Linked DNA regions of Homo sapiens. The protein of the gene in region 2 interacts with the protein of the main gene of each other region in a biochemical or structural test. Each region holds a gene or a part of one and is shown on either strand. Other genes may lie near its edges.

Region 1 (7,552 bases), on a different chromosome or scaffold from region 2:
AAATCTACATGAAATATTTATAAAAATTGACTGCACCAAAGCAAGTTTCAATAAATAACAAAGAATCTGCTTCATATAGATCACATTCTTTGACCTTAATTCAGTTAAGTTAGACGTTAGTAACTAAAGAATAACCTCAAATACCCCTCAAATACACCTGTATTAATTCACTAGTCAAACAAGAAATCGTATCTGAAATCTAATTTTTTTTTTTTTTTAAACAGGATCTCGCTCTGTCACCCAGGCTGGAGTAGTGACATGATCATGGCTCGCTACAGTCTCAACTTCCCAGGCTCAAGTGATCCTCCCACCTCAGTCTCCTGAGTAGCTGGGCCTATAGGTGCATGTTAGCACACCTGGCTAGTTTCTAGAAAAGTTTTCTTTTGCAGAGATGGGGCCTCACTATGTTGCCCAGGCTGGTCTCAAACTCCTGGGCTCAAGTGATCCTCCCACCTTGGCCTCCCAAAGTGCTGGGATTACAGGCATAAGCCATTGTGTCCAGCCTAAAATCTAAACTTTTTTTACCTCATTGGTGATAAAAAGTCTATATATCTTGTGGAATATAGCTTGAGTGGTACTTAAAGTGAAATCTGTAGTCTTAAATGTTAAAATCAGAAAACAGATGGCTAAAAATTAATTACCTAAGGCAACAATTCAAAAAAAAAAAAAAAGAGCAACAGAATAAATCCAAAAAGAGCAGAAGCAGAAGGGAATACTATATGATATATATTAATATTACATTACATATTATATTCTCACAAACTATATAATAGTATATATTTTCTATTGTGCCATATATAACAATATAATATATAATAATATATAAGAACAAAACTTACTGGAACAGAAAAAGAAACAATATTGAAACTAAAGTCTGGTTCTTTGGAAACACTAATAGAAAGTAGAAAGAAAACATTAGTAAAAAAAAAAGATCTCTGGCACAGCTGATCCAGATAAGAAAAAATACATATAAAATGATATTTAGAATGAAAAAAAAACATTATGGATAGATAGAGCAGAGATTAAAATACATTAAGAGATAACTATGAACAGCATTTTGTCAACACATTTGAAAACCTAGATGGTATGGATAATTTCCTTGAAAAACATAGTGTATAAAAATAGATTCAAGAAGAAAACAGAAAACCTGAAGAGATCTACGAGCATTAAAGAAATGGAATCAGTAGTTAAAAATCAACCCACGAAATGTCTATCCCAGACCCAGACAATTTACCTGCAAAACTACCAAACATTCAAGGAACACATAATTCCAATCTTACACACACTGTTCCAGAAAATGAAAAAAGAAGGAACATTTACCGGTTCATTTTATGAGACCAGTATAACCAGACAAAGGCAGTAAGAAAAGGAAAAACTGCAGCCAATTTGACTTATGAACATGAATACAAAAAGAATCCTAGAATGAAATTAAATGTTGGCCATCATTCATTCATTCATCCACTCACTCATTCAGTCAATCATTATTTATTGAGCGTCAACCGTGCGCCAGCAGGCACTGTGCTAGTACATGGAGAGCAGAAAGGCACGGGAGCTTCTGGCTTAGAGGAGATGGGCAATAAAGCAAATGATCATACAGGGTAAGGTACACAGAGGACGTTCTGGTAAGGTAACTGCATATCAAAGGGCATTCGACCCTGTCAGAGAGGTCTGGGAAAGATTTCCAGGCATGTAAGTGGAGTAAGGGTGTATGTGGGAAGACTGTTTTGTAAGCTGTTGCAGGGCCTCAGGTGGGAGATCTGGGATGCAGCAGCAAGAAAGATGGATTTGAACTTGGGCTTCCTTTAGAAAGGCTAAGTGGAGATGTTGAATAGGAAATTGACCAGAGCCTGGAGCTCTTCAGGAAGGGTGGGGCTGGAGATTTCAATTTGAGTGGCATCACCATGTGTTTAAACCCATCCTGGAAGATTGAGTTTGAAGAAGGAAGTGTCCAACATTGTCTTGGGCTGTTGAGACTTTCAGAGGGTTGAGGACTGATATTGTGCTGCTTGAATTCTCCTGATGCAGGGGCTACATTGAGTGAGCTGGAGAAAAAAAATGCATAAAATAATAATAATAATAATAATAATAATAATAATAAGCTATTACAAATAATGTAGAGCAAAGGGGCAGCAAGAGGGAATTTTTTTGGACAATGAAACTGTTCTGCATCTTGATTATGGTGGTGGTTACATGACTCTATACATATGTCAAAACTCATAGGATTACAGACCAAAAAGAGTAAATATTACCGTATATAAATTAAAAATAAATGAGTAAAAACAATGTAGTAATGGAGACTTAAAATCCAGTTCTTTCTAAGCCCTGACTTTGTAACCGCAGCTCTAGCCCCTCTCTGGATTTTAAATCAGTTCTATAAGTGTCAGCTTGTGGAGGTCTATACCAGACAGGAAGGGCCCCCAACTCTCGCCTTGTGAGGGACAGAATAAACACGCAGGCAGCAGAGGCCACACGGCATTGGACTGATGGTCAGAGGGTGGGGGTGGGGTGTAGCCTGGTGAGTTTGGCACCTCTGAGACGCTGATGTATAATGAGGGGATTAGATTAGGAAAGGCCTTTCTACCTAGGATGGCCTGTGGTTCTACTGTAAAAATCCCAAACACAATACAATTAGCTCTGTTGTCTGCATTTTGTTTAGAATAATCAATCATAATAAACAATCATTGTAACAACTGGCTGTTCAACACATGAGACCCCAGATGATTTGGGAAGGAGCTTGGAGTGACAGGAAATGTTTGGGTTTGTGGTTTAAAGCCTTAGAGCACCTTCTCAATATGATTATATTGAGTAGTGATTGATAATAAACACGACTCAGGTTTACAGTGAAAAAGGAACTTTTACAACATTGGTTCACTTCAGCCTCTCACCTTCACCACATCAATCCTGTCAAGGAGGAATTACTGCAATTTAGGGAACAGGGAGACTGAGGGTCTGGTCACTCAAGGCTATGGCTGGTGTTGAGATTTTCCCAATATTCCATTTTTCCAAAGCCCACAGTGGATTTGGTTCAGTTTTGGTGTTGAGTGTATTCCTTTGTCTCCTAATCCTATGAAAATTAATGGAAAAGTGTTAATTGGGCATCAATTCATGCTTAACATTAATCTCAGTATTTGATGAACCACAACTTTATGTTGCCCCTCATGCCATATTAACTCAGTTTATTGCAACAATTTAAAACGATACAGATTTAAAACAATATGGGTAATTGTATCCGTATTGTTTCAAATGCCCCATAAATTGAAACCAGCCCGAATTTGGGCAGTCTGGAATCTGCCGGAGAAACTTTCATGCGATGCCTTTGGAAGGCTACAGACATTGTCTTTTTGGAGTTTTCAGTGCATGAAGGTATGAAACCGCATTTATTAAGCACCTACTGTATGCCAGAACCCGTGCTGCACAATACTACTGCTGCTAAGGTGGGAGTGATTCTGAAGCCTTCTGCCACCCTAGCTACCTCTGCAGGTCGTGAGGGGTCTTGGGCTATTTCAGTATCATGCACTTTACTATCCTGGCATACAAAGGCTGGGTGAGAAATAAAATATATAACGAACGGATTACACAGGGGTTTCCTGAAATAACCACCCTTCCCATCCATCCCAGAGACACCCCAAAAGTACTTCTCGTTATATACAAACATTTGCTTTGAACCTCAATCATGTGACCTTGACTCCTATAACCTATCTTATTACATTTTTAAAACACTGTATGATTAACGCGGAAACCCTTTCTTCGGCACTTTCTCGCCACTGGAATCGCGTCAGTTTCTCAAAGTTCCAAAATAACCTTTCCCGGGCACGGATTGGTACCTCTACTGGGGAAGGGCGGGGAACCGCGCAAGACGTGCCGGTGTGGAGCCAGAGCCAGAGAGAACTTCCAGCGCAAAAGGAAAATAAAACTTGTGGCTGGTGTTTGTGCAGGAGGGTCTCCGCCATCCTGAAGCCCCCCGATCCTGGGGCGTCTCGGGGGCCGCCAAAGGAGCGCCAGGGTGTGGGTTTGCTCCCGACGTCCTTGACCTAAATTTCTGAGCGGTGGCTGGAAACAGGGCACAGCGGAGGGCGGGCGGCTGGTGCCATTCCCGGATCTCGGCGGCAGGGGCCGGCAAACTTGAATGGAGAGGGCGAACTAGAGAGGGTGGGGGGCGTCTTCTCCCAGGTCCGGGTGAGGAGCCGCAGCAAGCTCCCCGCGCCTCCCCTCCCCCGATCCACCCGCCCCCCGCAGCCCATGTGATCCAGGGAAGTCGGGGTGCGCTCCCCCTCGCCCTGCGCCCTGCCGGCCCGGAGGCGGGGTCCCCTCCGCCCGCGGGGTTCGCGCGCCACCCTTGTGGGTCCGGCCGTGGGGGGCCGAGTGTGCGCGCGCGGGCAGGCGGGGGCCGCACGGGGGTGCGTGACGTCACCGGCATTGGTTACACGACGTTCTAGAACTCCGCCCCACGTGCGCCGGGGAGGAGGGGGAGGAGGAGGAGGAGATGGGGGTGGGGAGGAGGAGGGGGAGAGGTGGGGATGGGCCGGGGGGGCGGGGACGGGGGGGTGTGCGAGGCAGCGGGGCTGAGCTAAGCCGAGCCCACGTGTGACGGCTCTCGCCGCTGCCCCGGCTCCGCCGCTCGCAGAGAGATTCGGAGGAGCCCGGGCGGGGGGGAGGAGGAGGGGGAGGAGGGAGCGGAGATCTCGGGGCTCGGAGCCGGCCGCCGCTCCGCTCCGATCGCTGTGGGGCTTGGTTTTTTGGGGGTGGGGGGGCGGGGGGGCTCAGATATGGAGGCAAATGGGAGCCAAGGCACCTCGGGCAGCGCCAACGACTCCCAGCACGACCCCGGGTAAGTTTCCAGCCGCTGCCCACCGCGCCGCCTTGGGCTCGCTCTCCTTGCAGCGGCGGGGACGGCGGTGCGCGGAGCCGGGCATCTCCCGCGCCCCCCCGCCTCTCCCGCGCGCCCCCCCCGTGGAAGTTACACACCTTTGGATTGCATTTCGCCGTCACCTTCTCCCCCACCCCACCTCCCGGCTCTCGCTCGCTCGCTCCCCCCCGCTTTCCTTTTAGCTTTTGTAAGTTACACGTCAAAATGGCCGATCTGACATCGGTGCTCACTTCTGTTATGTTTTCTCCCTCTAGTAAAATGTTTATCGGTGGACTGAGCTGGCAGACCTCACCAGGTAAGGGAGGGAGGGGGGGACGCCTGGGTCCCCCCCTTCTTGGCTTCTTTATTGCTCTTTGTTATCCCGGTGTAGGAGCCCCCCCCCCCCCGCCATTGGCTCCCCACTTCTCCTGTGCAAGGTTATTTTTTTTAAATAGCAAATCCTTTCTGAGCCCTCTATGCGACCTCTGTTGCCGAATTTCCCCCGCGTGTGCAAAAAATGCAAAAACAAAACAGAATAACAACAGAAAACTACTTTTGGATTTTGTCCTTGATCAAAATTTGCATTGCTTTTTTTTTCCACACCTTCTCTCCCCCCCCCATCTCTCTCTTTCTCTCTCTACAGATAGCCTTAGAGACTATTTTAGCAAATTTGGAGAAATTAGAGAATGTATGGTCATGAGAGATCCCACTACGAAACGCTCCAGGTAAACCATTCCCTTCTGGATTTTGTCTTTATTTTAGAACAAAGTTTAAGTTTTATTTTTGGAGGTGTCTTCGGAAGTAGCTAAGCGGATTAGAATGGGGCTCAGGCGCGTGGCTGATCTCGAACGGCGCTCTATACCACCCCCACCGCCCCCTAGTAACCCCAGAGGTTATTGTTAATTGGAGCTGAACTCTGGATACAGAGATACCCATCTCTCTGCTTTTAAGTCATTTTCCCGTCGCTTCTTTTTCTCTGTTTAAAATGACATTCAGCTTCATTTACTTTCGCATAGTTTTTTTTTTTCTTTTGATCTTAATGTGTGTTTCCCCCACACTCCCAGCTCCCCAAACTCTTAAGATCCCTCTTAGAAAGATGGTGGTAAATCTCTTCTAAGTGCCGGGCTTTCTTCGGAATAAAACAAAGCGTTAAGAAAGGGAAGGGGAGGAGGAGAGGAAACTGAGGTGGCCAAAGAGTGGAGGCACCAGCATTTTCCAAGTTACCTCCACCCTCCCTGCCCCCGTTCCACTTCCCCCGTTAACCTTGATGTTTTTTCTTGCGAGGTGGAGGGCTGTAGGCAGGAGGGGAATTGGAGGAGGGGAGTGGGAGGTGGGGGTGCGTGGGGGGCAACTTTTGCTCCTCATTCAGCCTTAGGTCTCACTCCTGGTTGCTTTCAATGGTGTCACATTTTCTTGTTTGTTTTTCTCCCTCTTTGTCTCCTTTCAGAGGCTTCGGTTTCGTCACGTTCGCAGACCCAGCAAGTGTAGATAAAGTATTAGGTCAGCCCCACCATGAGTTAGATTCCAAGACGGTAGGTTGCTTTTTGTTGTTGTTGTTCGCCCCTTTTCAGGAACGATCTGGGCATTGACAGCCCCATTTAAAGGGACAGTGCCTTCTTTTGCTTCTGTGCTAGAACTGGGTAGTTTTAAACTGAGCTAGCGAGTTGGCTCAAAAGTTTGCTGCTGTGGCTGGCTTTGGGGTTTTCTTTTTAGAGCCTGTCCCATTGCAGCTTCAGAGGCTGCCAAGGTTAGGCTTGGGGAGGAGAGGGTTCGGCTCCTGGAGAGTCTGCCTTCCCGGCCTGGGGACTGTGCAGAGAAACTCCACCAGAGAGCAAATGCAACTTTTCTTTGTCAGCCAAGCACAGCACGCGTTACCAACTGTGGCTGTGGGGATCAGCTTTGAGAAGGCACAGCCTGCTTTGTGGCCAAGGGGGACAGCAGTGGGAAGGAGGGGAGAGGGCGCTAATTACAGGTCCAGGCAACAGGTTTCTCTTGGGGCACTTGGGATTTGGAATGTGCTTTGGGAAGGGAAGGGGACGCTGGCGGAGCTGAGCTGGGCATCCACTGGGGTGACTCCAGATGGCATGAAATCTAAGGCTGATAAGGCCTGGGGGTTTCAAAGTGATTTTTTTTTCCTTCCTTTTCTTTCTCAGATCCTTTCATTTGAGTATGGGTACTTTTATACATCACAAGTTTTAAAAATCCAGAGTAGAAGGGGGAAGAGTCTCCAGGCAGAGGTCAGAAGGGGAAGGGAAGAAAGAGTGTCTGTATATAACAATACATTTAATGGGAGGGGGAGTGTGCAGTGTTTTATTTAGCCCCTGTGTGGGCTTCCTGCCTCTCCTCCCTTCCCTTTATGTCTACCAGAGTTTCCCCACGGTTTTTATTAATATATATCTGCCCCAAACAGAGGCCTTAAGATGACATTGGGCTGTAGTGCTGGGTTGCATGGAACTTCACTCCTCTGTGATGGGGTAGTGGGACAAGGCCAGAAATGGGGCTCTACTTCCATCCGCCTCTTATGAAAGTGAGCAAGACATTCCCTACCTCTGGGTCTCAATTTCCTCTTCTGTAAAATAAGTGGACCAAGGTGATCTTTCAAGCCCCTTTTGGCTTTAACATTGAATGGAAGAGAAGGAAAGCAAATAAAGAAACCTGGCAACCTTCGGTGCACTTGAATTGATTTTGCAAATTCACCCTCTTTCT
Region 2 (7,021 bases):
AAAATTAGCCGGCATAGTGGCACACACCTGTAATCCCAGCTACCTGGGAGGCTGAGGCAGGAGAATCACTTGAACCCAGGAGGCAGAGGCTGCAGTGAGCCGAGATCATGCCACTGCACTCCAGCCTGGGTGTCAAGCGCAAAACTCCGTCTCAAAAAAATACAAAAACAAAAAACGGTTGTCTGCTGAGGGAGGGTTAGGAGAGAGAAGGGGTGGTACAGTTGCCCTGGAGACCATGAGGGCACTGCATGGAGACCTCGTTGAAGGGTCCAGATCCTGTAACATTCCAAAAAGGCGGAGGAGGTTGTCTCATTGAGAAGTCCTTGCTGCACTTTTTGCTTAGGTTGCTGAGATGCATCCACTCGCACGGATCCCAGTTGCTATCGTTACTTGGATATTTCGGTCTGCATCCCTGCATGCTGGCATCCAGTTACAGCCCAGCAGGAATGGAGCCTCCCTGTTGTTGCTGGTGGCCTGGCTCTGGGCTGGATGGCTCAGCAGCCAGGGTGCCTGGGCAGCCTCCAGCACTCAGAGCTCAGCCTTCCTTAGCCTAGGAGGGATGACTCCGGGCTGCTAAAGCCCCCCCAGACGACTTTCATACACACAGGAATGTGAGTGGGGCGGGCAGATGACGCTGGCGAAACCAAGCGTCCTAATCACGCTGGCCCTGCCCCTGCTCCCTAATCCCAGGAGGGTGGATGCCGAGGCCAGGGCCTCCTGGCGACAGATTTTTAAACACGAACATGACATCTGACTACAGAAGTGCCTTCTGTTTGTTCATTCAAGCCATCCCTCTCTGGGGGTGGACAAGCCACTTCCTCTCTGCTCAACATCGAAGGCAACTGAGGCAAGCATTTGCCCAGAAATTCAGGCTCAAATTTCTGATCTTTTGCTTTCTGGCAATCCCATCGCCCATGTAGCCAGTTTAGTGAACATCACCTAGGAGTGCCAGCTGCCTGGGATCTTCAGCCTGAGGATCATCCTCCCTAGGAATGGGAAGGGCAGAAGAGGGTGGAGGTGGATCTCACTCTCTGACGCTGGGGGCAGGGTGCTGGGAGGACAGCCCCCCGTAGGGGAAGTAGAGGCCCATTGGCCACTGACTGTATCATCATAGGCCTGTGGTTCCCCTCACCCGCATCTGAAAGCTGGACCTGTAGCTGAGCATGACACATGGGCAACAGGACAGACCCCGAATAGAGAAAGGGAGGCCCCTGGGCTGGTCAGGTGCATCCAGGAACCTCCCCATCCTAGAGAGGCTGGGAGGAAAAACTCTTGCATCTCCATAAAGGGGACTGGGGTCTGGGGTTGAAGCATGCACTTAGGCAGGCTAGGGCTTGGAAATCCACCACCACCAGAGAGGGCAAGGGAAAGAGTGGAGGCCAGGAGAGCTGCTGCCCAGTTCTGACAAGTCCATTAAATTTTAAAGTGCCCTGCCCTCAGGCATGCTGGGAAGGGGTGGGGACGTGGCCGACTCTGCTTCTCTCAGCTGTTTGTTGTTCTGCTGCCACTGCTCTGCCGGGGAAGGAGGAGGAGAGCAGATGAGTGAGCTGCCCTCTCTGGAGAGGGGACAGGGCAGGGCCTCGGCAAGCTCCACTGGTGATCTCGCGTAGGTCTCCTTCATCCAGACGCACAGCTGGAGGATCGTGGGAGCAGGAAGGGGACAGGTGGCCCATCTGGTGACACTGCTCCTCTCAGCCTGAATGGGCTCCTGGCCCCTTGGACCCTCGCAGAGCTCTTGCCCAGAACGTTGCCCACTCCTTCCTCCTCCTGTCAGCTCCGGGGCTTGCAGAGGGGGCAGCCTGGCTGAGGAGAGCTGCGGGTGCTGGCCCTGGCCCACGGCGAGCTGGCATGCCATGCCGTCCTGACCGCCTCCCTCCTCTCCCTCAGGTCCCGTTTAATGGATTCTGACATGGATTATGAAAGGCCAAACGTAGAGACCATCAAGTGCGTTGTGGTGGGGGACAACGCCGTGGGTAAGACCAGGCTCATCTGTGCCCGCGCTTGCAATGCCACCCTCACCCAGTACCAGCTGCTGGCCACGCATGTGCCCACAGTATGGGCCATCGACCAATATCGTGTGTGCCAGGAGGTAAGGCTGCAGGACTACCTGGCTGGGGGTCCACGCCATGAGTCTGGGCTTGGGGGCTTCCTGAGGCATAGCTTGGTGTCTCCAGAGCTCACGGGAGCCCTCTAGGGGTGGGACAGGATGGGTTGGGGGCAGCTGAAGAGGAAGGAGCCCCTGGAGAGAGGTTTAAGCCAAGTCTGCCCCAGGGAAGTGTCTCTGGCTGGTTGTGTTTTCAGGGACTGAGCTGGTGCCTGGGACTCCATCTTTGTCTGGGGTACCGCATTGTATGTAGTCACAGCCTTAAGTAATGGGGAGCACTGGAGGGCTGGGGCTTGGAAGAGATACAAGCTGAGAGGAGCAAAGAAGCTGGCAGCTGATAGCAAAAGACCAGAGGCTCACAAACATGCAGTTTGCAAGGAAAGCCAGGAACAAGGGTCAGCTCCCAAAGAGGCCCCTTCCACACCCATAGCAGTCCCTTAGGGTCTCTTCCACCCCCTTAGGGTCTCTGCTACCCTCTTAGTGTCTCTTCCACCTGCTTAGGGTCTCTTCCACTCCTGGTCAGCTTGGAGGCCACCCTTGTTATAGATTCTACAGAGATTTTACGTGGATGAAAGTTGTGCAGGGTGCACAGTGGGCGATGCCAGCCTTGTCCCTCCATGCCCAGTGATGTCTGGGGCCCCCAGGTGTCAGCCGGCGCTTATCCTGAGGTGGCACGCAGAGGTCCCCAAAACTGCTGCCTTCGAGTCCCACTCTTCCTCCCCGTCCCCAGGTGCTGGAACGCTCCCGAGACGTGGTAGATGATGTCAGCGTCTCTCTGCGCCTCTGGGACACCTTTGGAGACCACCACAAAGACCGTCGCTTTGCTTATGGGAGGTAGGGAAGGCCTCTAGCCGCCTGCAGAGAACCAACAGGGTGGGTTTTTCCCTGCTTTTCCCAGGAACAAAGCACCTCTGTGAAATTTCAGCTGGCAAGAAGAAGTGGAGAAAACAGCTCTGGCAGAGCCTCATGGGGGCTGGGGCAGCCTGGTGCAGTGAAGGGAGCCTGGGTCCGGGATCAGGAAGCCTGGATTGAGTTCCAGCTCTGTGCCTAGTAGCTCTGAGATGATGTTTCTCAGCTGTGAAGTGGTGAAAACAGCCATTTCTAACTCACAAAATAGCTGTGAGGCCAAAACAAGTCTTGAGCTCTAAAGTGGCACATAAATTGGAGGTATTGTGATTATATGTTTTGTGTCAAGAGCACGTGAGCAGATACCTAAGCCAGGTGTGGGACTGTACAGGGCTGGGGTGGGGCAGATGTTCCAGGACCAGGTAAGCTACCACTTGTTTCTCTGCCCGTAACCTTACTTTCCCACCCGCAGATCTGATGTGGTGGTTCTGTGCTTCTCCATTGCCAACCCCAATTCCCTCCACCATGTCAAGACCATGTGGTACCCAGAAATCAAGCACTTCTGCCCCCGAGCACCTGTCATCTTGGTGGGCTGCCAGTTGGACCTGCGCTACGCTGACCTGGAGGCTGTCAACAGGGCTAGGCGACCCTTGGCTAGGTAGGAGGTGCTGGTACCAAGGAGACAGACATGGATGGGTGCCTCACCATGGCTCCCTGCTCAGCCCTGGGGGAATTCCACTGAGCCTCATATCTCTCCCTCCATTTGGAGCAAGCTTGCATTGGGAGTCAACAAGCATGCTCATTCATTCATTCATTCATATACCTGTTGCACACCTCTGGTGTGGGCAGTGCTATGTAAAGCATCATGAAGAAAAATAGAGAGGAAGAGGTGATATTTGCATGAAAAAGTCCTATAATTTTGCTGAGGGATAAACTAAATATGTGAGCATGTTAAATACCCATGTGAAGCATTGCCTGCTAATTGCCAGAGAGGCAGTGCTGTCACGGCTTTGTACTGGGGAGGTCACTGGGGCCTGGCATAGTAGGGAAAGCTTTCTGGAAGAAAAAGGGCTTGGAGTGGACCTTGAAGGAGCTTGATGGGATTTGGCCAGACAGAGCAGGGCAGGAGTGGGTGGGGATTGGCACCCAGATCCTGAGCAGAGTCCCTCCAGCCTGTGGAAGAACAGGCAGCCTCCCTCCACCACCAACACAAGCTTGGTTTCCTTCTTGAACCTACCAGGCCCATCAAACCTAATGAAATCCTGCCCCCAGAGAAGGGTCGGGAGGTGGCCAAGGAGCTGGGCATCCCCTACTATGAGACCAGCGTGGTGGCCCAGTTCGGCATCAAGGACGTCTTTGACAACGCCATCCGAGCTGCACTCATCTCCCGCCGCCACCTGCAGTTCTGGAAGTCCCACCTCCGCAATGTGCAGCGGCCTCTGCTGCAGGCACCCTTCCTACCCCCCAAGCCACCGCCCCCGATCATCGTGGTGCCCGACCCTCCCTCCAGCAGCGAGGAGTGCCCCGCCCACCTCCTGGAGGACCCGCTCTGCGCGGACGTCATCCTGGTGCTGCAGGAGCGGGTGCGCATCTTTGCCCACAAGATCTACCTCTCCACCTCTTCCTCCAAGTTCTATGACCTGTTCCTCATGGACCTGAGTGAGGGGGAGCTGGGGGGCCCCTCGGAGCCAGGGGGCACCCACCCAGAGGACCACCAGGGCCACTCTGATCAACACCACCACCATCACCACCACCACCATGGGCGAGACTTCCTGCTCCGAGCAGCCAGCTTTGACGTGTGCGAGAGCGTGGATGAGGCTGGGGGCTCCGGTCCTGCTGGCCTCCGTGCTTCCACCAGCGACGGGATCTTACGGGGCAACGGAACAGGGTACCTACCGGGCAGGGGTCGTGTGCTGTCTTCCTGGAGCCGAGCTTTTGTGAGCATCCAGGAAGAGATGGCAGAAGATCCTCTCACCTACAAATCCCGGCTGATGGTGGTGGTGAAGATGGACAGTTCCATCCAGCCGGGGCCCTTCCGGGCTGTCCTCAAGTACCTGTACACGGGGGAGCTAGATGAGAACGAGCGTGACCTCATGCACATTGCCCACATTGCTGAGCTGCTCGAGGTCTTTGATCTGCGCATGATGGTGGCCAACATTCTCAACAATGAGGCCTTCATGAACCAGGAGATCACCAAGGCCTTCCACGTCCGCCGGACCAACCGGGTTAAGGAGTGCTTGGCAAAAGGCACCTTCTCAGGTATGGAACAGGCTTGGAAAGCAAGGGGGTTCTGCATTGGTGCTATTAGCATTGCCTGTCTGTCTCAGCTCCTGGTGTCCTGGAGCTGCGGCTGCCATGCTCTTGAAGCCTGGTTTTCCCCAGCTGGGAGCGGGTTTGTTCCGTGCCCCGAATCTTCTGGGTTCAGGAGGAGGCTCCGTGGCTCCCCTTGGGGCTTGTTCTCCCAGCTTCTTTCACCAGTCCTCCTGTGATGCTTCTTCTGGACAGATGTGACCTTCATCCTGGATGATGGCACCATCAGCGCCCACAAGCCCCTGTTGATTTCCAGCTGTGACTGGATGGCTGCCATGTTTGGGGGGCCATTTGTGGAGAGCTCCACCCGGGAGGTAAGGCTGAGGACACAAAGGGGGGAAGGAGGGAGTGAGACATTTGCACCCTTTACATCTGAGGCACTGCCACTCAGGGTACTTTCTTCACTGACTGTGTGCTAACCACAGGGTGATGGGCCCAAGAGAGGTTTATGAGGTGGTTCTTGGAGCTAAGGATTATACAATACACCAGGAAAGGGAATTACACTGACACCTCAACTTGAGAGTTTAGAAAGCACTTTCTGTTCATTATCTCATTAAATTCACACGCAACGTACACATGTGCCACTCCTGCCGTATATCTAGGAAAGGGAGCCCCTGAGAAGTTAAGTGACTTGTATGAAGTTGGAAGTAGAGTTAGGACTTGAACTCAGGACTTCCATTCCTTGGCTCTTTACTTTGTACCTTACTGCCTCCCTGACACACTTGAAACAACTGAATGCATCACTGTTTTAAAAGATAGGTTTTATTATTATTGAGGTGTAGAGAGGCCCACAGATTGCAAGATGGCTGTCATTGATAAGACAACTTGTTACAGATCCCAAGAAAAGGGGGCATGCCACAGCACCATGGCTGGGGTCACATGGGGAAGCTCTGGGGTCAATCAGGAGGCAGAGGGTTTCTGTGGGAGGGAATGGGCGAGGCAGGTTGAGCAGGTTTAGGATTAGCTGTTTGAATAATGTTAGCCGGCTCTGGGGCCTGGATGCTGTCTCTAGTTGTCTGTCACCTGGCTCTAGGGGGATTAGGGCAGGGGAACAGTGGCCTGGAGTGTGAGGGCCCATAGGGGAGGTAGTGGGCTGTGGGCTCTGGATTGGTTGGTTTGCATATGAAAGGCACACTTGCAGGCAACTCCTTCACTATCCCTAGGACTTGGCCAGCCCTGAGGGAGGCAGTCCCTATAGGGCCAGCAAGGCTTTAGTTGTCAAAGCAACAAAATACAGAAAATAGGTGTAGGGGGTGGCTTACACCTGTAATCCCAGCACTTTGAGGGGCTGAGGTGGGAGGATTGCCTGAGCCCAGGAGTTTGAGACCTGCCTGGGAAACACAGACACCATCTCTACAGAAAAAAAGAAAAAAAGAGAGAGAGAGAGAAAAGAAGGAAGGGAGGGAGGGAGGGAGGAAGGGAAGGAAAAGCATACTTAATAGAACCACCTGCCTCTCTAATCAGTGACCCTCTAGCTCTCACGATGCCACCACTTTCTCACTCACCTAGATTGGAAACTTAGGGTTGGAAGAAGCCTATCAATGTGTCCTTAGAAATATTCTCTTAGGTTTGGTCTCTTTTCCATTCCAAGCAGAGTAGCCTGGGCAGTAGCCCTTGGTGTGCTCTGAACTCCTGGACCTCAATTGCCCATCACTGAGTGTCGTCGAACCTTGTAGTTAACGAGGTTCGACTTTGTGCAGGCGCGTGGAGTTCTGAACGTCCACACCGTTTCCCCTACTGTTCTGTAACTGCTTCTGAGCG

The links. Proteins that work in one complex are often made in the same cells at the same time.
Region 1: the proteins of RHOBTB2 (region 2) and MSI2 form a complex in vitro, tested with the Homo sapiens proteins (one study listed by BioGRID).

Annotation. Positions count from the first base shown.
Region 1 is NC_000017.11:57,251,977-57,259,528, forward strand, and holds the start of MSI2 (RNA-binding protein Musashi homolog 2), read left to right. Parts: upstream 1-4,546; 5' UTR 4,547-4,766; coding exon 4,767-4,828; intron 4,829-4,965; exon of another isoform or gene 4,966-5,020; intron 5,021-5,042; exon of another isoform or gene 5,043-5,071; coding exon of another isoform or gene 5,072-5,121; coding exon 5,122-5,162; intron 5,163-5,489; coding exon 5,490-5,571; intron 5,572-6,293; coding exon 6,294-6,378; intron 6,379-7,552.
Region 2 is NC_000008.11:23,002,538-23,009,558, forward strand, and holds part of RHOBTB2 (rho-related BTB domain-containing protein 2), read left to right. Parts: intron 1-1,887; coding exon of another isoform or gene 1,888-1,897; coding exon 1,898-2,089; intron 2,090-2,834; coding exon 2,835-2,938; intron 2,939-3,422; coding exon 3,423-3,608; intron 3,609-4,190; coding exon 4,191-5,209; intron 5,210-5,455; coding exon 5,456-5,574; intron 5,575-7,021. UniProt on the Homo sapiens protein: Regulator of cell proliferation and apoptosis. It likely functions as a substrate-adapter that recruits key substrates, e.g. MSI2, to CUL3-based ubiquitin ligase complexes for degradation. Required for MSI2 ubiquitination and degradation.